Linked DNA regions of Homo sapiens. The protein of the gene in region 3 purifies or fractionates together with the protein of the main gene of each other region. This does not show direct contact. Each region holds a gene or a part of one and is shown on either strand. Other genes may lie near its edges.

The links. Proteins that work in one complex are often made in the same cells at the same time.
Region 1: the proteins of CCDC7 (region 3) and ITGA5 fractionate together in Homo sapiens (co-fractionation; one large-scale study listed by BioGRID). This does not show direct contact.
Region 2: the proteins of CCDC7 (region 3) and YIPF1 fractionate together in Homo sapiens (co-fractionation; one large-scale study listed by BioGRID). This does not show direct contact.

What each region holds. Positions count from the first base shown.
Region 1 is NC_000012.12:54,395,267-54,398,766, forward strand, and holds part of ITGA5 (integrin alpha-5 precursor), read right to left. Parts: intron 3,433-3,500; coding exon 3,331-3,432; intron 2,222-3,330; coding exon 2,099-2,221; intron 1,111-2,098; coding exon 1,027-1,110; 3' UTR 1-1,026.
Region 2 is NC_000001.11:53,876,298-53,879,797, forward strand, and holds part of YIPF1 (protein YIPF1), read right to left. Parts: intron 2,426-3,500; coding exon 2,345-2,425; intron 2,106-2,344; coding exon 2,018-2,105; intron 1-2,017.
Region 3 is NC_000010.11:32,844,640-32,848,139, reverse strand, and holds part of CCDC7 (uncharacterized protein C10orf68), read right to left. Parts: intron 2,898-3,500; coding exon 2,814-2,897; intron 2,598-2,813; coding exon 2,514-2,597; intron 2,265-2,513; coding exon 2,181-2,264; intron 1,765-2,180; coding exon 1,681-1,764; intron 308-1,680; coding exon 224-307; intron 1-223. UniProt on the Homo sapiens protein: May play a role in tumorigenesis.

The DNA of each region.
Region 1 (3,500 bases), on a different chromosome or scaffold from region 3:
TTCTGGTCAGTGGGGGCACTGGGTCAGATTTATTGCACTTGCAACAGAGTTTAAATAAGTCCTGGGTGTCTGGTGCCAAGGTGAGGGAAGGGTTGGGCAGAGAGATGAGGGGCAGCATCAGTGCAGCTGGCAGGCAGAACCCAAATTCTGCAGGCCCAGGACAGTGGGCTCCCCTTTCTCTGGGGAACAGGGAGGGCCTGTGTCTGGCCAGGCTGAGGTTCCAGATCTGTTGCCATCATGGCCCCTTCAGGGTCCTGGGAAATTCCTGGCTTCTCCTAAATCAGGGTGAACTGGGCCTCCAGGATCAGGTCTGGAGCAGGCCCAAATATAGTCCTGGATCTGCCTGGATTAGGTGCCAATGTCTGAGTCTGGGTTCCAGATCAACTCCAGACCCCAGGCTGGATCTGGCCCCATTTGAGTTCTGATTCCCCTTGGAGCTGGGCTCTGGGCCCTGGGCCAGCATCTATCCTTGTGTGGCATCTGTCCTGAGCTGGTCCTGGGGCACCATGCATAGTTAGTGTTCTTTGTTGGCCCACCAGGGTGGGGCTGTCCAGAGCTGCCAGGTCTTAACTCCCCAAGTTCCAGGTTCTTAGCTGGGGGCTTCTTTTGGATCTCTGGCAAGGCTGAGGACAGATCTTTGCAGGTTGGAGCTGGACAGGAAGTCCTTGTGGCATGTCTGGCCCAAAGAACTGTGAATGGATTTCCTAGTTATCTTTCCAAGTTGTTTCAGGAAACTCTCCAAAATGCAAAGGCTTCAGGGAGGCTGGGGCCTCTGTCCCTGGATCTGAGTTCCCCCATCCATGAAGAGGGTATGTGTAAACAAGGGTCCTTCACAGTGCATGGGGGGGAGGGATCCCCAGCTCCTCACCCCCCTGGCTCTGGCCCTTCAAGTATGTCTCTGGGCTGGGGAGAGGAGCTTCTCCCTGGCCGTCAGCACCTTCAAGAAGTACCCAGACCCCTCCTTTTCAGTAGAATGAGGGTGGGGGGACTGGTTCTTCAGGAATGGGAGTCTGAAATTGGGAGGACTCAGGCATCAGAGGTGGCTGGAGGCTTGAGCTGAGCTTTTTCCATGGCGGTGCCATATGGGAGGGAGCGTTTGAAGAATCCAAGCTGATAAAGGGGAAAAGAGGGAGAGTTTAGGTACTATGGCTGCCATTTCTCCACAGCTCTTATTCCAAGAAGTAATAAGGAGGACTCTAGTGCCTCCAACCTCTACATCCTGCAAAAGTGGCCTCTGAATTCAGGCTAGGACTACCCCTCTAAGTTGTGCAATGGACCCAGGAGGACCAAACTTGGGGGTGATTTTGTATGGGGGGTATCTTTTACCAGTGCCTTTAAAATTCCCCAGTTAAGCCAGAAATGGCAGATAGGTTTGAACTCAAATGCCAAGTCTGATTGCTTAGTAGTGGCTGCTTCTGTTTGTTTGTTTGTTTTTGAGACAGGGTCTCACTCTGTTGACCAGCCTGGAGTGCAGTGGCATGATCATGGCTCACTGTAGCCTCAAACTCCTGGGCTCAAGCGATCCTCCCACCTCAGCCTCCAGAGTAGCTGGGACTATAGGCACGCACCACCAAACCTGGCTAATCTTTGTGTTTTTTTTGTAGAGACAAGGTCCTAGTGTGTTACCCAGGCTGGTCTTGAATTCCTGGGCTCAAGCTGTCTTCCCACCCTGGCCTCCCAAAATGTTGGGATTACAGGTGTGAGCCACCACACCTGGCCATGGCTGCCTCTTGAGAGAGATTCTGAAGCCACTTCTAGGAGATGATCAGTAGCCATTTCTAGGTTAGTGATGGCTGCCATGGATTTTTGGAGAAATTGACAGCACAAATGCCACGTATTTGTCATCTTTGGGTTCCAATGATTTTGCAAGTATAGGCAAACTTATCATCTTGAGTCAAGAGGACCCTTTCTAAGCTAGGGGCTATAGAATGAAGGGGGGGATCTTATAGGAAGGGTTAGGATGGGATGCATGTAGCCAGGACAGAGGTGGGGGCACATGGCTGGTGAACTGGTCTAGAGGTAGATACTTGGGACTGTGCCAGGTCAAGGGCAGAGCCTGATGAGAGGGTGGCCAAGTCACAAGCAGGATGTGGCTGACCTTGTAGAGGATGTAGATGAGTAGACCTAGGAGCAGGAGGCCAAACAGGATGGCTAGGATGATGATCCACAGTGGGACGCCATAGCTGCCTTCTGCCTTGGTCCATTGCACAGCTGTGGCCACCTGGGGAGCAAGTTGGGTGAAGTCAATGAAAGCTCAGAAGTTCTTTCTACCCTATACTTGGCCCCCACTTGTCATTGGATCTGCAGAGCCCAGTGGGCTCCCCTTTCTCTGGGGAACAGGGAGGGCCTGTGTCTGGCCAGGCTGAGGTTCCAGATCTGTTGCCATCATGGCCCCTTCAGGGTCCTGGGAAATTCCTGGCTTCTCCTAAATCAGGGTGAACTGGGCCTCCAGGATCAGGTCTGGAGCAGGCCCAAATATAGTCCTGGATCTGCCTGGATTAGGTGCCAATGTCTGAGTCTGGGTTCCAGATCAACTCCACCTCTTATTTTGAACTAACAGCATTCTGAACTTAAAAATTGAAGTTCCTAAAATGTACAATATTGTCTCTTACTTTCGGGCTTTCATATCATATCCATTTTTTTTTTTTTTTGACAGAGTCTCACTCTGTCACTCAGGCTGGAGTGCAGTGGTGTGATCTCAGCTTACTACAACCTCTGCATCCTGGTCTCAAGCGATCCTCCTGCCTCAGCCTCCCGAGTAGCTGGGACCACAGATATGCGCCACCACATCTGGCTAATTTTTGTATTTTTTGTAGAGACAGGATCTCACTATGTTGCCCAGGTTGATCTTGAACTTCTGAGCTCAAGCAATCCACTTGCCTTGGCCTTCCAAAGTGCTGGGATTACAGGTGTGAGCCACTGCGCTCAGCCTCATATCTGTTATTCACCTCTCCCCAGGATATCCCTTTCCTGAATGGCTAGCCTGGTTAGTTCCTATTTATTCTTCAGGTCTCAGCTTGAACATCACTTCTTCCAGGAAGCCTTCCCTGACCCAGTTAGACTGGGTTCAGGTGTTCCTATTATGTGTTTTCATAAATATCACCACACTTGGAACACTGTGTTGTTCCACGAGACTGTGAACACCAGGAGCAAAGATACCATGTTGATCTTGCTTACCACTCTGTCTCTGGCATCTGCACAGTGCTTGGCACATAGTACATTCTCAACAGTTGTTAACAATACCAAGGCCAGCCCTCACCCAAGTCCCAGCCCTGTTCCAGCACTCTGAGCCCTGTATTCCCTCATCCAGTCCTCTGGCCCTAGACTCACCTGACGCTCTTTTTGGGGCAGCTGCCGAGGCAGGATTCGGTAGGGCATCTTCAGGGCTTTGTACACAGCCTCACACTGCAGGCTAAATGGCTGGTGCTCCCGCTGTGGGTAGGGGAAAGTTGGTTAGCACATCCTCTCTTGGGATCCAGAGGACATAGGGTTCCCCATCG
Region 2 (3,500 bases), on a different chromosome or scaffold from region 3:
TGTGGTTTATTTTTTTACTTTACTTATGGTTTATTTTGTTGTGTAGAAATTTTAAATTTTAGGTGAAATGTAGTCAAAGTTATCAATCTTTTCCTTACACTCTGTAAATTGTCATCTTTTTCTTAACTGCCTTCCTCTAACCTCCACCCACAACAAAACCTAATCCTCTCTGCTATCAAACACTTCACCTATATTGTACCTTCTTCTTTTAACCACGTCTATGAGCTAATGAGGCTACTAGTGTCACAGAAAAGAAGCAAGCCTTGGATTCAAGCCCTGGCTTTGTCATGAGAGGCAGTATAGCATAGTGATGAAGAAATGGATTATGAGCTACAGTGTTGATTTGAAAATTGAGCCCAGCACTTACTAGCTGTATAATCTCAGGCAAGTTACTGGACCTCTGTGTGACTCAGTGTCCTCATCTATAAAATGGGGATAATAATAGTATCTCCCTCATGAAGTTGGATCTGGCATAAGGATTAAATGAGTTAATACAGGTACTGCCCTAATAATAGTGTCTGGCACATAATAAGCATTATATGTGTGTTTGCCATTATTATTGCTAACTCTGTAACTACGGGCAAGTTATCTCCTTAATCTCAGTTTTCTCTTTTGTAAGATAAGGCTACCTTGGAGTATGGGAAATAAAATAGCATAAAATACTAAAATAGTGCTTATCTCCACGCTTGGCACTTATAAGGTATTCAACAGATGTTAGTGTTCTCTCTTCTTCCTCATTGGGGCTAGGGACCATGGCCTTATCTTTAAATCCTCAGCCTCTAGCACAGAGTCTAGCATAAAATAAGGTGCTAAAAATTGTTTGAGCACCTGCTGTGTGCCAAGGCCTCTGCCAGGCACTAAAGACACTGAGGCACAGAGCCTGCCCCTCAGGATGTTCTCAGGCTACAAGTAAGAATGAATGAGACAGAGAAACCACCCTGACAACCCTCAGATGAAAAGCATGGGCCAGTGCAATGGTTTTCACACCAGGCTCCCTAGAGTCCATATTTAAAATCAACATATATGACTGCTTTACTATTTATCATTTCTGATTGAGCATATATATCAATGATCCTCACTGAGCATCAGCTTCCTCATTTGAAAAGTGGGGATACTTTGCAAGGGTTGTTGCAAGAATGAGATATGATCAAGTACACACACAGTCTTTGGTACAGCACCTGGCACACGGACAGCACTCTCTTCTCCCCTCAAACACAGGCCACTGTTGGGGCCTTTTCCTCAGGAGTACTGGGTGGACCTCTGAGTTTTTCTCAGACAGCATTAAGGTCAGGGATGACAACAATCCCCGGCCCAATCCTGTTTTAGACTTCCACTGCTGGTGACCAAATCCTAAAAGGAGCCAGCTCATCTGAGGGCAGAGCTGGAACTCAGCATATCAATGAAAAAGTGTGAGAATACCTTCTCCTCCAACATCAAATGGTCCAATCTCCACCTAGTCAAAGTGACTAAATTTGTCTCAAGTTGTAAAGTTATTTGAAGAATTTTTAAAAATCATTCTTTTTATTTTTATTTTTTAGTAGAGATAGGGTCTCCTTATGTTGCCCAGGCTGGTCTCAAACTCCTTGGGCTCAAGCAATCCTCCTGCCTTGGCCTCCCAAAGTGTTGGGATTACAGGCGGCAGCCACTGTGCCAACCCAGCCTTTAGTAGAGACAGGGTCTTGCTATGTTGCCCAGACTGGTCTCAAACTCCTAGCCTCTGGCAATCCTCCCATCTTAGCCTTCCAAAGTGCTGGGATTATAGGCATGAGCCACTGCGCTCAGCCCCATTTAAAGACCTTTGAAGGATATACTAGTACTTGTAATGATGACGTGGCACTAATATAACACATAATTGTATTCCTCCAAAATTACTTGCAAGGGTTGCTACTGAAGTTCAGAAAAGTCTAATAATACATGGCATGCCCCACCAATAGTGCAGTTCTCCACATTTCCAGGCAACCCTCACACTCACCCAAGTTCAACTGAAATACGGTAAACAAATCAGTACTAAACATACCATAGAGATCTGGATTGCTGCGGATATATAACCTCACAAAGTTTTTCCCGGGTATTGGCAAAAGAGATCCTTTAATTCTGTCAAAGACCTGGAAAACATCATAGCAGTAATTCTACTGAAGTTTTTTAAGTTTAATAAATTCAACTACTACAAAATTGAAACTCAGTCATTAGAGCTTTTATGATAGTATTTTCAAATGCTAATAACCCTTTACTTTTGTAAGACCATTTTCAGTATATAAAGGCTTTCACATTATTTGGTTGTTCAACCATTAAAGAAACAAGTCTCCTTTACCCGTAAAAGGAAAGGTGAAATTGGTTTCCAAACCTGGTAGGTGTCCACATCAAAGAATGTTTGGTAGTATTCAAATGTCCAGAAGGGGGAGCTTTTCTTCTGTCCAGCAAGTAACTGTCAGAAATAAAATAAAACATAATGAACACATAAGCAATTTCTTAATTCCAGCTGCGTGGGGTGCAGGAGGGATCTGATCTAATGGAAAAGCAAAACGTTTGAAACAATAGGCTCTTCCACATTCAATAACCAACTCTGAAATAGCCAATTCGCAACTCTCAGCCTGATTAGAAAAACAAGCATTGGTTTTGAAGTCACACCAAAAGGGTTCAAATCCTGGCCCCTCCACTGAGGGGAGCTTTGGCAAATCACTAGACTCCTGCTGGGCTTAGTTCCCTTATCTAGATTCAACAGTATATAGAATTATGTACAATAATAAATACATATACACACATACAACACATACAGAAGGCAGTCAGTGTAAATATCTTTTCGCTTTTTTTTTTTGAGATGGCGTCTCACTCTCTTTCCCAAGCTGGAGTGCAGTAGTGCAATCATAGCTCACTGCAGCCTTGAACTCCTGGGCTCAAACAATCTTCCCACCTCAGCTTCCCAAGCAGCTGGGACTACACGCGTACACCACTATGCCCAGCTAATTGTTTAATTTTTGTAGAGACAGAGTCTCATTATTTTGCCCAGGCTGGTCTCAAACTCTTGGGCTCAAGTGATACTCCCGCCTCAGCCTCCCAAAGCACGGGGATTACAAGCGTGAGCCACTGCATCCAGCAGTGTAAATATCTCTTCCTCCCCCATCCATCCACAATCCTCCCTACTATTGCCACCTGAATTCTCAAAAATCTGATATATTGACTCACTCTAAAGTACTAAAAATATTACTACTCTGACAAAAAAAAAAATCCTATTGAGAAGAGGCACCTGAGGAGGGCCATACCCATCCCAACAACACAGCTCTTTGGTGGCAGAATGCATGCCCAATGCCAGGAATTGTGCCTGTCATCTTCAGATATCCGAAGGGAATTCATACAGCAAAAAGTACGGTGAACACTGAGCTGCTTTGCAGGACAAGGGCAGGTGCTATAGGCAGATATTTTTTGTTCATTATAAAGGAAAACGGATGGCCGATTAGAAGTAGCTGTGGTCTGCAGCACTCACAGAGAGGAGTGAAAGCGGT
Region 3 (3,500 bases):
AATTATAAACCTCATATTTTTTAAAATCATTGTCTAGAGGTTTTAAAACTTTCTAGCTAATTTCCCATTGATAATACGAGAGTTTAACTAATTATATGAGAAAATTCATGAAGACATTTGCCCATGAAATATTAACATATAGGTACTGTTATCATTAAAGATTCATACTTAAACCCCAGAGAAGATAAACTGTAAATATTAGACTTAAAATTATTATTCTTACCATAGTGAGTCCTTAGTTGTGTCTTTATCTCACCAATTGTTTTACTTGAACCAATGGCATTTGTCAAGGGTTCTACATCAGTCTCTATAGACATAAAACACATTTCAAAACACTTTTTAAGGTAACCATTTATGTTACACATGTATTTTAGTTCTTTTTTCTTTTGAAATTTCTTTTTCTTTTCTTTTCCTTTTTTTTTTTAGAGACAGGATCTTGTTCTGTCACTCAGGCTGGAGTGCAGAGGTGTGAACATGGCTGACTGCAGTTTCAACCTCCTGGGCTCAAGTGGTCCCCCGCCTTGGCCTCTCCAAGTAGCTGGGACTACAGGTGTGCACCACCATGCCTGGCTAATTTTTGTATTTTTTGTAGAGATAGGGTTTTGCTGTGTTGTCTTTTGAAATTTCTATATTATTTGCTGATATCTCTGTTACCTTCCTTTTCTTCCTTAAGAATAATTTCCTTTAACTCTAAGAACACACTTATAATAAGTGCTTTGAGGTTTCGTTGGCTAGGTCCAACACCTGGAACTCTCACAAACAGTTATTGTGGCATGCCCTTTTCCTTGGTGTAGGTCACACTTCACTGTTTCTTTGCATGTTAATAATTTTTGCTCAAGTTTTGACAGTTTCCGTAGTATATTGTAGCATCTCCAGGTACTGATTTCCTCCTCCTCTATCTGGGGCTTGTCATTGTTCTCTCCTTATTTATTTGCATAGCGATGTGACTGGGCTATTGTACTAAAGTCTCTTGCCTGTAGTGTGAAGTGCTACTGCTGCTCTCCAAGGGGCAGAGCCTTGAACATGCATCCAGTACCTTGGATAACATTGGTTTTAGAGGGCCGGCTTCGAATGTGTCTCTTTACCTTATTTCTCTGTTAAGCTGTCTGCCTCTTTTTGTATCACACCAGAGATAAAGAAAATTGTATAACTACATAACACCCTTACACCAAGATGAAAGCCAGTAATGTAATCTCTGAATTATGTAACACAAATAAAGTACTGTATTGCAGGTGAGATTTTATAAATTTGCCTGACATTTTTATCAAATAGAAGGAATGGATAACCAGTGAAATAATTATGTGTTATACTCCTCTTGTCATCGCAGTCTTCAGCTAGCCTTTGTGCTTTTGCCTTTCTGCTTTTGCTAATTAAATATCACTTTTCAGAAACAAAAGTAAGTAGAATAGCTTTGGAAATGCCTACATTGAGACTACTCTAAGGTAACTGTAACACTGAATTTTTATGCATTACTTTTCAAATGGATGAGTTTTAAAACCAATAATATGCTAATGTTCCACTGATAGTAAATGCTAGAGCTTAATTAAAGGATATTCATGATGAATTTTACCTATGTAACACTAACATGTAGGCACTATTGTCATTAAATGTCTATACTTAATTTAACTCAGGGAACATAAATAGGTCACAAATATTAGACTCAAAAATTATTTTTCTTACCCTGGTGACTCTTTAATTGTGCACTGATTGGTCCCTTTATTATATCTCTTCCAATAGCATCTTTTAAGAGTTCTTTATCAGTCTCTATAGAATTAAACAGATTTCAAAATACTTTATAAGGTAAACATTACCATACATGTGTATACGTGTGTGTTTAACTAATTATAGAAGGATATTCATGAAGAATTTCACCAATGTAACACTATGATATAGGTACCTATGTAATAATAACATGTAGACACTGTTGTCATTAAAGGTCTATACTTAACTCAGGGAACATAAATAGGTCACAAATATTAGACTCAAAAATTCTTTTTCTTACCCTGGTGACTCTTTAATTGTGCATTGATAGTCCCTTTATTATATGTCTTCCAATAGCATCTTTTGCTATGGAAAGTACTATGATACAGGTACTGTTGTCATTAAAGGTCTATACTTCAATTTAACTCAGGGAATATAAATAAGCCTAAATATTAGACTTGAAAAATTCTTTCTCTTACCTCGGTGACTCTTCAGTTGTGTAGTGATTGGCCCTATTATTATACCTCTTCCAATAGCATCTGCCAAGAATTCCTTATCAGTCTCTATTGAAATAAAACAGATTTCAATATATTTTATAAGGTAAACATTACCATACCTCTGTGTGTATCTGTGTGTGTGTGTATGTGTGTGTGTGTGTGTGTGTGTGTGTAATTATGGAAGGGTATTCATGAAGAATTTTACCTGTGTAATACCAACATATAGGTACTATTGCCATTAAATGTCCACACTTAATTTAACTCCAGGAATATAAATAAACCATAAATATTAGTCTTGAAATTGTTTTCTCTTACCTGGGTGACTTTTTAATTGTGTCGTGGTTGACTCCTTCATTAGACCTCTTCCAGTAGCATAGGCAAAGAAGTTCTTATCAGTCTCTATAGAAATAAAACAGATTTCAGTATATTTTGTAAGATTATCATTACCATACTTGTGTGTGTTTTTGTGTTTAATTATAGGAGGATATTCATGAATAATTTTACTTATGTAACACTATAATATAGGTAGTTTTGTTATTAAAGGTCTATACTTAATTTAACTCAGGGAATATCAATCAGCCATAAATATTAGATGTGAAAAATTCTTTTTCTTACTTTGGTGACCCTTTAGTTGTGCATTGATTGATCCCTTTATTATACCTCTTCCAGTATCATCTGCTAAGTGTTCCTTATCAGTCTCTATATAAATAAAACAGATATCAATATATTTTGAAAGGTAAACATTACCAAATCTGAGTATGTGTATGTGTTTAATTATAGGAGGATATTCATTTAGAATTTCACCTATATAATACTAACATATTGGTACTATTGTCATTAAAGGTTCATACTTAATTTAACTCCGGGAATATGAATAAACCATAAATATTAGTCTTGAAAAAAATTTTTTTTACCTTGGTGACATTTAAATTGTGTTTTAATTGACCCCTTTATTATACCTCTTCCAATAGCATCTGCTAAGAGTTCCTTATTAGTCTCTATAGAAATAAAGCAGATTTCAATATATTTTATAAGGTAAACATTTTATGTGTGTGTGTGCATGTGTAGTGCACATGTGAGTTTTTATTATTATAGTAGAAGAGTCACAACATGTCTTATTGCAGTAAGCATCACAAAACAGAATTTGAAGGGCTATTAGAACTCATATAAGCCTATTATATTGAAGTTCAGAGATGCTTCATGATTTGAACAAGACCACATCAAGATAATGACAAAATTGATGTACAAACTGACACTTTATAATTCCTTAACCACTGACTTTACCATATAATGCATCTCTTA